Homo sapiens: one gene and its partners. The protein of the gene in region 2 interacts with the protein of the main gene of each other region in a pairwise test. Each region holds a gene or a part of one and is shown on either strand. Other genes may lie near its edges.

What was found.
Region 1: the proteins of DDX49 (region 2) and HAP1 interact in a two-hybrid assay, tested with the Homo sapiens proteins (one large-scale study listed by BioGRID and IntAct).
Region 3: the proteins of DDX49 (region 2) and PAGE1 interact in binary tests that used the Homo sapiens proteins (3 or more experiments, as listed by UniProt).

What each region holds. Positions count from the first base shown.
Region 1 is NC_000017.11:41,728,122-41,731,769, forward strand, and holds part of HAP1 (huntingtin-associated protein 1), read right to left. Parts: intron 3,623-3,648; coding exon 3,517-3,622; intron 3,439-3,516; coding exon 3,372-3,438; intron 211-3,371; coding exon 80-210; intron 1-79. UniProt on the Homo sapiens protein: Originally identified as neuronal protein that specifically associates with HTT/huntingtin and the binding is enhanced by an expanded polyglutamine repeat within HTT possibly affecting HAP1 interaction properties.
Region 2 is NC_000019.10:18,925,922-18,929,277, reverse strand, and holds the end of DDX49 (probable ATP-dependent RNA helicase DDX49), read right to left. Parts: intron 2,976-3,356; coding exon 2,901-2,975; intron 1,513-2,900; coding exon 1,424-1,512; intron 1,314-1,423; coding exon 1,242-1,313; intron 1,151-1,241; coding exon 962-1,150; 3' UTR 648-961; downstream 1-647. UniProt on the Homo sapiens protein: ATP-dependent RNA helicase that plays a role in various aspects of RNA metabolism including the regulation of mRNA export and the levels of pre-ribosomal RNA. Regulates the stability and synthesis of pre-ribosomal RNA and thereby regulates cell proliferation.
Region 3 is NC_000023.11:49,693,743-49,697,490, reverse strand, and holds the start of PAGE1 (P antigen family member 1), read left to right. Parts: upstream 1-1,506; 5' UTR 1,507-1,622; exon of another isoform or gene 1,623-1,632; intron 1,633-2,712; 5' UTR 2,713-2,720; coding exon 2,721-2,783; intron 2,784-3,289; coding exon 3,290-3,392; intron 3,393-3,748.

The DNA of each region.
Region 1 (3,648 bases), on a different chromosome or scaffold from region 2:
GAGCCGAGTGGAGGCAGGAAGAAGGAAGCTAGGGTCCCATGGGGCCACGACAAGAGGGTTCCACACACACCCGACTCACCATCCGGCAGCGCTGCTGCAGCTTCAGCACCTGGGCCTGCAGCCGAGCGACCTCCTGCTGCTGCCGTTCATAGTTTTCCAGCCTGAGCACCAGCACCTCCGACAGCTCAGCCATCTGTTGGCTGGCCTCCGCTGGGGAGGGCAGAGGACAGGTCAGCCCTGGCTCCCCTGGCCTTCAGGGACCAGCTCTGGCCCTCCCAGATGCCTCTGTCTCCCCCACCCTCGGCTGCTGCGCTGTGCCAGTGGGTCCTGCAGGGCTTTGCATTCCTCACTCAGGTCTTCCATTCAAGAAATGTTCATTGACTGATACTGAGCAGGGCACCAGGGTGAGTGGTCAGTAAGACCCAGCCGCCACACTGAGGTAAAGTTGGTGGGGAGACAGACCACAGTCACACATCATACAGGCCATGATGGGCAAATGTCAAGGGTGTACAGGGCAGGGGCATCACAGCTACAGCACCCAACCCGACCTGCAAGGTAAGGAAGGATTCCTGGAAAAAGGAACCACTAAGCTAAGACCACAGGGCAAGTGAAGCTCACCCAGGCAAAGAAGGAAAAACATGGGTCCAAGCTGACTGGAAAGGCCCAGAGGCCATCATAAGACACTGGGACGGGGAGGGCCCAGAACAGTGCACACAGGCCAGACCACAGTAGTGGGCAAGGGGGTGGGGTTTATCCTTTGGCCAATGGAAAGCTATTTGGGAGTTTTAGGCACAGTAATGACGTGGTCAGACTTGGGTTTGTTGGTTTATTTATTTATTTATTTGAGACCGAATCTCTGTCGTCCAGGCAGGAGTGCAATAGTGCAATCTTGGCTCACTGTAACTGCCGCCCGAGTCCAAGCGATTTTCCTGCCTCAGCCTCCCGAGTACTTGGGATTACAGGCATGCGCCACCACGCCCAGTTAATTTTTGTATTTTTAGTAGAGACGGGGTTTCACCATGTTGGCCAGGCTGGTCTCAAACTCCTGACCTCAAGAGATCCACCTGCCTCTGCCTCCCAAAGTGCTGGGATTACAGGGGTGAGCCACTGCACCCGGCTACTTGTTTTTTAAGAAATGAGGTCTTGGGACAGGCACAGTGGCTCATGCCTGTAATCTCAGCGCTTTGGGAGGCTGAGGGGGATGGATCGCTTGAGGTCAGGATTTCAACACCAGCTTGCCCAACATGGTGAAACCCCATCTCTACTAAAAATACCAAAATTAGCTGTGCATGGTGGCGCATGCCTGTAATCCCAGCTACTCGGGAGGCTGAGGCAGGAGAATCGCTTAAACTCGGGAGGTGGAGGTTGCAGTGAGCAAAGACCACACCACTGCACTCCAGCCTGGGTTACAGAGGGAGCCTCCTTCTCAAAAAAAAAAAAAAAAAAAAAAAAAAAAAAGGAAATGCGGTCTTGGCCGGGCGTGGTGGCTCACACCTGTAATCCTAGCACTGCGGGAGGCCAAGGCGGGAGGATCACTTGAGGTCAGGAATTCAAGACCAACCTGGCCAACATGGTGAAACCCCATCTCTACTAAAAATACAAAAATTAGCTGGGCACGGTAGCACAGGCCTGTAATCCCAGCTACTCAGGAGGCTGAGGCAGGAGAATCACTTGAACCTGGGAGGCGGAGGTTGCAGTGAGCTGAGATCATGACATTGCTCTAGCTGGGCGACAGTGAGACTCCGTCAAAAAAAAAAAAAAAAAAAAATTTGCCAGGCGTGATGGCACACACCAGTAGTCCCAGCTACTCAGGAAGCTGAGGCAGGAGAATCACTTGAACCCAGGAGGCAGGGGTTGCAGTGAGCCAAGACTGCAACACTGTACTCCATCTCAAAAAAAAAAAGAAAGAAAGAGAGAGAGAGAGAGAGAGAGAAGGAAGAAAAGAAAGAAAAGAAAGAAAAGAAAAGAAAAGAAAAGAAAAGAAAAGAAAAGAAAGAAAGAAAGAAAAAATGAGGTCTTGCCAGGTTCCCAGGCTGGGGCTGGAGTACAGTGGCTATTCATAGGTGCGATCCTATTACTGATCAGCATGGGAGTTTTGACCTGCTCTGTTTCTGACCTGAGCCAGTTCACCCCTCCTCAGGCAACCCAGTGGTACTCCACTCCCTGGACCATACTGACCCTGTCGGCATAGTGTACTACAGCCCAGAATTCACAGGCTCAAGCAATCCTCCCACCTCAGCCTCCTGAGTAGCTGGGACCACAGGTGGGAGCCCCTGCACCTGGCCAGGTTTGGTTTTAGAAAACTCATTAAGGCTGTGTGCAGAAGTTCCTGGTAGGGCGCGAGTAGAGGCAGTGCGACCAGTTAAGAGGTATCTTGGGCTAGAGGCAGCCCGAGTGGGGAGGGGGAAAAAGACTTAAGCCATTCCTAGGAGGTAAAAGCAACAGAGCTTGGGGACTGGTTCCTACTCCAGTAGCCTGGGGACCAGTGGGGCCATTCAGGGAGTTGCAGAACCCAGCAGGAAGGAAGGTCAGTTCTGGGGTAAAGGGAACAGCAGGAGTTCAGCTGTTGCCACTTTGCGTTTGCATCTCACCAGCTACACTTGAACTCCTCAGGCACAAACACTGCTCCTCACTCATCTTCATAAACACACAGTGCCTAGGACGATGCCAGGCACAGCCACTGCCCCGTGCATGACTCTGAACTGTCCCAGCCCTGGGTGCCTGGTCTCTGGCAGCTCATGGCTCCCTCTTGCCTGCCCCAAATAAGAGAAGACAGGCTTGGAGGAGACCCACCTTTTTTTTTTTTTGAGATGGAGTCTTGCTCTGTCGCCCAGGCTGGGGTGCAGTGGCGTGATCTAGGCTCACTGCAAACTCTGTCTCCCAGGTTCAAGCAATTCTCCCACCTCAGCCTCCCAAGGAGCTGGGACTACAGGCTTGTGCCACTGCATCTGGCTAATTTTTGTATTTTTAGTAGAGATAGGGTTTCTCTAAGTTGGTTAGGCTGGTCTCAAACTCCTGACCTCAGGTGATCCGCCGGCCTCAGCCTCCCAAACTGTTGGGATTACAGGCATGAGCCACCGTGCCTGGCCTGAGACCCACAATTTCTGTATAGCTCTTTATAGTTTGCACAAAGTACTTCCTCAGCTGTTGACACTCTTAATCTTCATAAACCCTGGAGAGATCAGTGGGGCTGAGAAAATTAATCCCCATTCTAAAGACAAAGGTTCAGAGAGGTCAAGGAATGTATCCAAGTTCACACAGCTAGGAGTGCCAGATCTGGGACTTGAACTTGGATCTCCATACTCCACATCTTGAGTTCTTTTCTCTGCTCCTTGGGACAACCCCCCACCCCGAGTGACAACATTACGTACAAAACTGCTCCACACACTCCAGAATGAGCATCTGTTCCTCATCCTCAAGAGTGTCGAGTTGAGAGGCCTGGAGGGAGACAAAGAGGAAGGGACAGGGAAGTCAACACCCCCTGCTAGCAGGGACGCCCTCCTCCCCCATTCTCACCTCTTCTCTCAGCTGATGATTCTCCTCCTCCAGCAGCCTCAGCTTCTCCTGCAAGGCTTCCAGCTGTGGGCAGTGGTGCTGGTGCAGCAATGCCTCCTGCGAAATCCTAGGGGAGGGAGGAATGGGAGTCAG
Region 2 (3,356 bases):
TGGCAGCTTTGGGGCTGTTTTTGAGCTTCTCATTGTGTAGAATTTCTAGATCCCCCGATTACATTTCTAAGCGTGGCTGTGTGTGTGTGGTATGTGGGTATCTGGGCACTTAACATGTCGCCGGCGCCTTTCCCTGCGTCTTTTTGGGTGCCCCTGAATCCATGTAGCAGTTATAAGCCGCTTGCAGATGAGGGGTGAGGCTTGGAGTCCGAGGGGGGTCCAGGCCACACAGCCAGGAAGCTGGCTCTGGTGTCTCTCTGCCTGTCCCCTTGGGCTTAGCCCACATTGTCTGGCCAAATTTGGACTTTCATGGCCCCTTCACTCTGGCCACAAACCCCAGATGTGGCCAGGTGGGTGGCCAGGGAAGCTTATAGCTGCACCCATTCGGCACAGGACTGACCTCACCAAAGCCTCACAGCTGCCTCTGGAGAGCAGGGCAGTTGCTATGCCCATTCTCCAGATGAGGAAACTGGAAGCCCAGAGAAGGGGCTTCAGGGCCCAAAATCCCATGGCCATTCGAGCAGCTGGTGTCTGCAAAACTTTGGGCCTGCCTGGTGGAAATGGACATGGTGTTCTGGGCAGACACCTGAGAAACAACAGCGGCTGCACCCCACCTCTCCTGTCCCCCTGCTCTTCGAAAGTCAGACTGAGGAAGTCAAAAGACCCGTTTATTAAGCACCTCCTGTATGCGGCACCCCTGGGGGGTGACCTTGGGTTGGGGTCACAACCTCCCGGTCATGTTCTTTCTTCCCCTGCAGCCTGAATCTTGGCCAGGGCTCAGGGAAGGGACCAGCCAGTGGTTTCGGGGCAGAGGAGCAGGGCCCGCACAACACGAGCGCCCACGGGTTCTGCTGTGGGGCACTGGGTAGGCCCCCGGGAAGGGCTGCTGCCCCCAAGGAAGGTTCCTCCGACCCTCAGCTCCATGGACGAGTCAAGGACTGGGCAGATGGCCGTGTGGGGCTCAGACCAGGCCCTGGGAGGGGACTGGGCCTGAGTGGGACCCAGACGGTGTCCTGGGTGGACGCCCCTTGTGGCCAGCCCTGCCAGCCTTCTGTCGCTTCAGCGTCTCCTCCACCTTCTCCTTGAAGCGCCGGTTCTTCTGCTTGATCTTGGCCAGCTCAGCCTTGCGCTTGGCCTCCAGGTCAGGGTCCTGGCACAGGGAGGACCAGGGGATGGCTGAGCTGGCGGCCCCCGCCAGGGAACCTGGCCACCCACCCCCTACCTGCGGGCTCGGCCCTCACCTTCCCCTCCAGGATCAGCTGCTTCCGTTTGTTGATCTCCTTCTTTTCGTCAAAGTGGGCCGCCTCCAGTTTCTGGTGGAGGGAAGTGGGGTAAGGAGATGCTGGTCACGGGGGCCCCACCTGGAAGGGAGCACCCCCGGCCCTGGAGAGCACTTTAGTTCCTGCCCGCCTCTGACACTCACGATCTCACACTCTCTTCGCACCACGTTGACCTGTGTGAGGATCTGTAGCACCTCGGCCTCTTCCACGGAGAACTCCTCCAGCTTCTTCTCTGTGGGGACAGCAAAGCCGGGGGTGGGGGTGGGGAGGAGACGTGACATGGAGAGGGAGTTCAGCCAAGTAGTGAGTTCCCCATGCTGTGGGGTATGCAAGGCCATCTGGGGCCATATCAGGTAAGGGTCAGCTGAGCAAGATCAGGGATTTCTGAGGTAAGGAAGGTATGGACCGCTGTCTTTCAGAGTCTCACGGTCACCCAAGCTGGAGTGCAGTGGCACTATCTCGGCTCACTGCAACATCCGCCTCCCGGGTTCAAGTAATTCTCATGCCTCAGCCTCCCCCCGCCATTTTTTTTCGGTGTTAGCAGCATTATGAGTTTAACCATGAATATTAATTTCTTGCAAACAGTGTCCTTTAAAGTCCAGATATTTCTTTCTTTTTTTTTGAAGACAGGGTCTTACTCTGTCGCCCATGCTGGAGCGTGGTGGCTCAATCAGGTCACTGTAGCCTCCGCTCAAGCAATCTTCCAACCTCAGCCTCTTGAGTAGTTGGAACTACGGGCGTGTGCTGCTAGTTTCTATATTTTTTGGAGAGGCAGGGTTTCTCCACATTGCCCAGGCTGATCTCAAACTCCTGGGCTCAAGTGATCCACCCACCTTGGCCTCCCAAAGTGCTGGGATTACAGGTGTGAGCCACCGTGCCCGGCCTTAAAGTCCAGATGTTTCTCTTTTTTTTTTTTTTTTTTTTTTTGAGACAGAGTCTCACTGTCACCCAGGCTGGAGCGTAATGGCGCGACCTTGGCTCACTGCAACCTTTGCCTCCCGGGTTCAAGTAATTCTCATGCCTCACCCTCCCAAGTAGCTGCAATTACAGGCGTGCGCCACCACACCTGGCTAATTTTTGTATTTTTAGTAGAGACGGGGTTTCACCATGTTGCCCAGGTTGGTCTTGAACTCCTGGGCTCAAGTGATCCGCCCACCTCGGCCTCTCAAAGTGCTAGGATTACAAGTGTGAGCCACTGTGCCTGGCCAAGTCCAGATGTTTCTAAATTTCAGGACAGTCTATGCAGTGATCAGAGATACCTTAGGAAGTGTCTCTGTCTTGGCTGCATATGAAACCATTCCCAGGGGTTTTTAGCAGGCCAGGCCCTGTCAATGGGGCCTCTGACATCTCAGGGACCTTCCATACATCTCAGTCTAAGAAACCCAAGTCCCCTCCTGACTGATGTGGCTTTCAGCTGCTGGCGACAACTATGGGGAGTTTGTTTCAATAAATGGGCAAAAGAACTTCTTTTGGGGGTGCCTAGGGAAGGAAGCCCCAGCCTAAATCTGCTCACGGGAGCAGGCCGGCTGGTGTCTGACGGGAAAATGGGTCTCACCCCGAGGTGCCCACCTCTGCCCACCCCACCCCTCCTTCTCTACCACCCACCCCAACCCCACTCACTGATCTGCTCCTCGATGGCGTGCACCAGGTGGATGTCGTACTGTGTCACCAGCGTGATGGCCTGACCCTGCCGCCCTGTGGGGATGTGCCGGTTATCTGCTATGTGCTGGGCGTCAGGACATGGGGCGAATAAAGGTAGATCCTGACAGCTACACAGCTCAGGGGTCCTGGAGATGCTGAACAAGGGCTTGGGCTTGGGAGGGATCAGCCCAGAGTGTCTGGGCTTGACCCCAAGCAGGACCACTGTGTGGAGGACGGGTCGCTGGGGAGAGGCAGGTCTGCCAGTCTGGCCTTACACAGCAGTTAGTTACTGCCCGATTTCCCTTTTTGGCTTGGCTGCCAGGGAACCCAGTCTAAGTAATGCCAGCCATTAGCCCTGACGGGCCTCAGCCCAAGATCTCTGCTTGCTGTTTTCTGTGACGTTGACTAGGGCCGAAACTGCACTGATGGTGGACA
Region 3 (3,748 bases), on a different chromosome or scaffold from region 2:
ACCTGCCTCAGCCTCCCAAAATGCTGGGATTACAGGTATGAGCCACTGCACCTGGCCAAGATGCCTAACTTTCATGCTTCTTCGTATTCTGAGTAATTTTGAATTATATGCTGGACATTTTGAATATCAGGTTATGAGACACTTCAACAATTTCTTTTTGTTTTGTTTTAGACACAGGGTCTCACTCTGTTGCCCAGGCTGGACTGCAGTGTGTGATCATAGCTCACTGCAGCCTTGAACTCCTGGGCCCAAGGGATCCTCTTGCCTCAGCCTTCACAGTAGCTAGGACTACAGGCATGTGTCATCACACTCAGCTATTTTTAATTGTTTTTTTGTAGAGACAAGGTCTCACTATGTTGCCCAGGTTGGAAACTCCTAGCCTCAAGCCATCTATCTTCTTACTTCAGCACGCAAAAGTGCTAGGATTATTGGTGTAAGTCACTGCTCTTGGCCACACAGAACAATTTCTATTTCTCTATCTTTGAGTTCACAAACTCTTTTCTTGTCTCCATTCTGCTATTGAATCCATTTGGGGAGAATTATTTTCCTTCGTTATCATATTTTCCACTTCTAAAATTTCCATTTGCTTCTTCTTTAAATATTCTTTTTTTGTGTGTGTGCCAGGACTTTGTTTTTACTTGTTTCAACAGTGTTCATGATTGCTTGTTTAAGCATTTTTTTTTTAGACGGAGTCTCACTGTTGTCCAGGCCAGAGTGCAGTCGCGTGATCTCGGTTCACTGCAACCTCTGCCTCCTGGGTTCAAGCAATTCTCCTGTTTCAGACTCCCGAGTAGCTAAGACTACAGGTGCGCGCCACCATGCCCAGCTAATTTTTTGCATTTTTAGTAAAGACGAGGTTTCACCATGTTGGTCAGGCTGGTCTCGAACTCCTGACCTCAAGAGATCCACCCGCCTCGGCCTCCCAAAGTGCTGGGATTACAGGCATGAGCAACCGCGCCCAGCCTAAGCGTTTATAAAATAGCATCTTTAAAGGCTTTCCCACATAATCCCAACATCTCTATCTTAGCAGTGATGTCTGCTGATTGTCTTTCCCTATTTCAGTGGCCCTATGTTCCTGGTTCTTCATATTCTGAGTAATTTTGAATTATATGCTAGACATTTTTAATATTTAGTTATGAGACTCTTAGTCTTGTATAATGCTATGAGGTATGTTGCTATTTCTGTTTTAGCAGGTCGTCTACCTCACTTCACAGGCAGCCACCATGGTCCTTGTCCCTATGGCAGGGCCAGAGCAAGAGAGGGCCCTGGAGGGGAGGGGGGCTCAGTTGAAGATGGAATGAGTTTTGAGGGGAGCACTATTTGAGGTATTTGAGTACCCGAGGCATATGAAACAGCAGAGGGAGGTCGGATTCCATTATCTTCACGGGGATGAAAATCGGGAGTGTGGGGTGTGGGGCTGGGAACTGCAGCCCTCCCCACCTTTGGGTGCTAGCCTCAGTGCGCATGTTCACTGGGTGCCTTCCCGTCGGCCCCTTCGCCCACGTGGAGAACGCCAGGGAGCTGTGAGAGTGTGCAGTCGCGTTCCTGCTGTCCGGACACTTTTTTCCTCTACTGAGACTCATCTGGTAGATCCGCAGGCCAGTCCTCCCAGGGGCTGAAGTGTGAGTGAGGGTGAGGAGGAGCCAGTGGGCTTCAGGCGGAGCCAGTGGGCTTCGGGCAGGTTCGGTGGGCCCCTCGGTCTGGTGGTGTGTGGCTTTTGAGGGAGAAGGGCCTCAGTGGCCTCCAAAAGAGAAGGGCCTCGAGCTCGTCCTCCTTCTCCTCACAGGCTGCGACGCCGCCATCGGCTTTGTGGTCGTGAAGGGGCCAGGACAGGGAGGAAAGTGGGCCATGAAGGGGAAGCGGTCAGGGGCTCAGGTGAAAATGAGGCGAGTGCTGCGGGTGCTGTTGGAGGGGTCAAAGTCCCGAGGTGGTAGGAACCCATGACACAGGGCACATTCCTGAGTCCTGAATGGGGCCCCGAGGCGGGAGGTGGGTGGTGAAGATGGCGGTAAAGAAGGGGCCTGGAACCTGGGAAGGCTGTGGGCTGGTGAGCGCCCCCCAGCGGTGTGGAGTGGGGAGTGCCCGAGTGAGAAACACCCGAGTGAGAAGCGTGGCAAGGTCTCACCTCTGCCATAGAAGGTCCGGAAACAATGGGAAGGACTGGGAGAGGCTGTGTGGCCCAACCAAACTTGATTTGAGGGGGGTGAATGGCTCTAGTAAGTGGGAGTGTGCCAAAAGCAGCAGTCACGGGAATTGTGATTCACTAGTGTTTTCATGTGGAGTCCGCTTGTGAAACTAAACCTCATCAGAAACGTCCTCTGTCAGAGGGGCGCAGTGGTGCGCGCCTGTAGTCCCAGCTACTCCGGACGAGGCAGGAGGATCGCGTGAGCGGGAGGTCGAGGCTGCAGTGAAGTGTGATCACGCCACTGCATTCCAGCGTGAGCAACAGAGCGAGATTCTGTGTCTAAAAGAAATTTTAAAATAATGTCCTCTGCCTTTTGCCACATGCCTTAAGATGACTACTCTGCCAGCTTGGGGAGCATAAGTGGCTTTGCAAGCACTCAGAAAACGTACACACTTGCACTTAACTCTGGGACTTATTTTGAGAGTATTTTCAAAATTAAAATGACAAGTTAACATTTAGCCATGGAAGTGATCGAATATAGCTGTCCTCTCAAGTGCATGTTCCCAATCACAATTTTCTCTTTTCAGTGTGAAATATGGGTTTTCTAAGAAGATTAATCTATCGGCGTAGACCAATGATCTATGTAGAATCTTCTGAGGTAATTGGGCCTATGCTGTTGAGTGCTTTAACGTTAATTCGATGTTTTCTATTAGCAGAAATTAATTTTTGTGATAGTGTTGTTGCATTAGTATAGATACACTAATAAAGGTAGTTCATGCTGATTAAAAAAATAAGATTCTGGTATCTCATGAAGGAAATATTGATTCAGGAGGATTTTTTTTTTCTCTTGTGTTCTCCAACTTTTGGCCATGACTTCTTTCTCATGCTTTGCTTGTGAATGACACATAGATTATACACATCTATTCCAACATAGAGTGCAATAGCTTCCAAAGTCCTTGTGGGTAACTTTTCTCGCAGTAACCTTTCTGTGGGTAGAGTAGCCTTATTAACCATATAGAATAAAGTTGGAGAAATATTTTTAGGTTTAGTTATGATCAGAAACATCTATGCATTCTCTGTGTGTATACGTATATATTTTTTGACATGTATTAATAACAAAACTTTTTGTCTTTGCACACTCACACACATATTCCCTACCACAAGGAGTCCAGTGATGAGCAACCTGACGAAGTGGAATCACCAACTCAAAGTCAGGATTCTACACCTGCTGAAGAGAGAGAGGATGAGGGAGCATCTGCAGCTCAAGGTGAAGGGAAAGGGAAGAAGAATGCCTGTTGGGGTGTGTGTGTGTGTGTGTGTGTGTGTGTGTGTGTGTGTGTGTGTCTCATGCATTGTCACATACCAGGAACAGGAGGAATGAAAGCCATGCAAACGATGCCTAGAAATTGACTGGAAAAGTGAAGAGGGTATAGTTTGCAGCTTACCTTAGGGAAATAAATCCCTCACTATGATAAAATTTCTCCACTTTATGAATGAGAGAATGGAGGCCCGGGGATTGTGTTTTGTCCAAGAACACTTGACTGGTGAATACAAAATTTGTGTTTTGTTCCAAAGTTTGTGTCTTCCTACCATCTATGTTGCTGTAACAATAGTAAATGATTT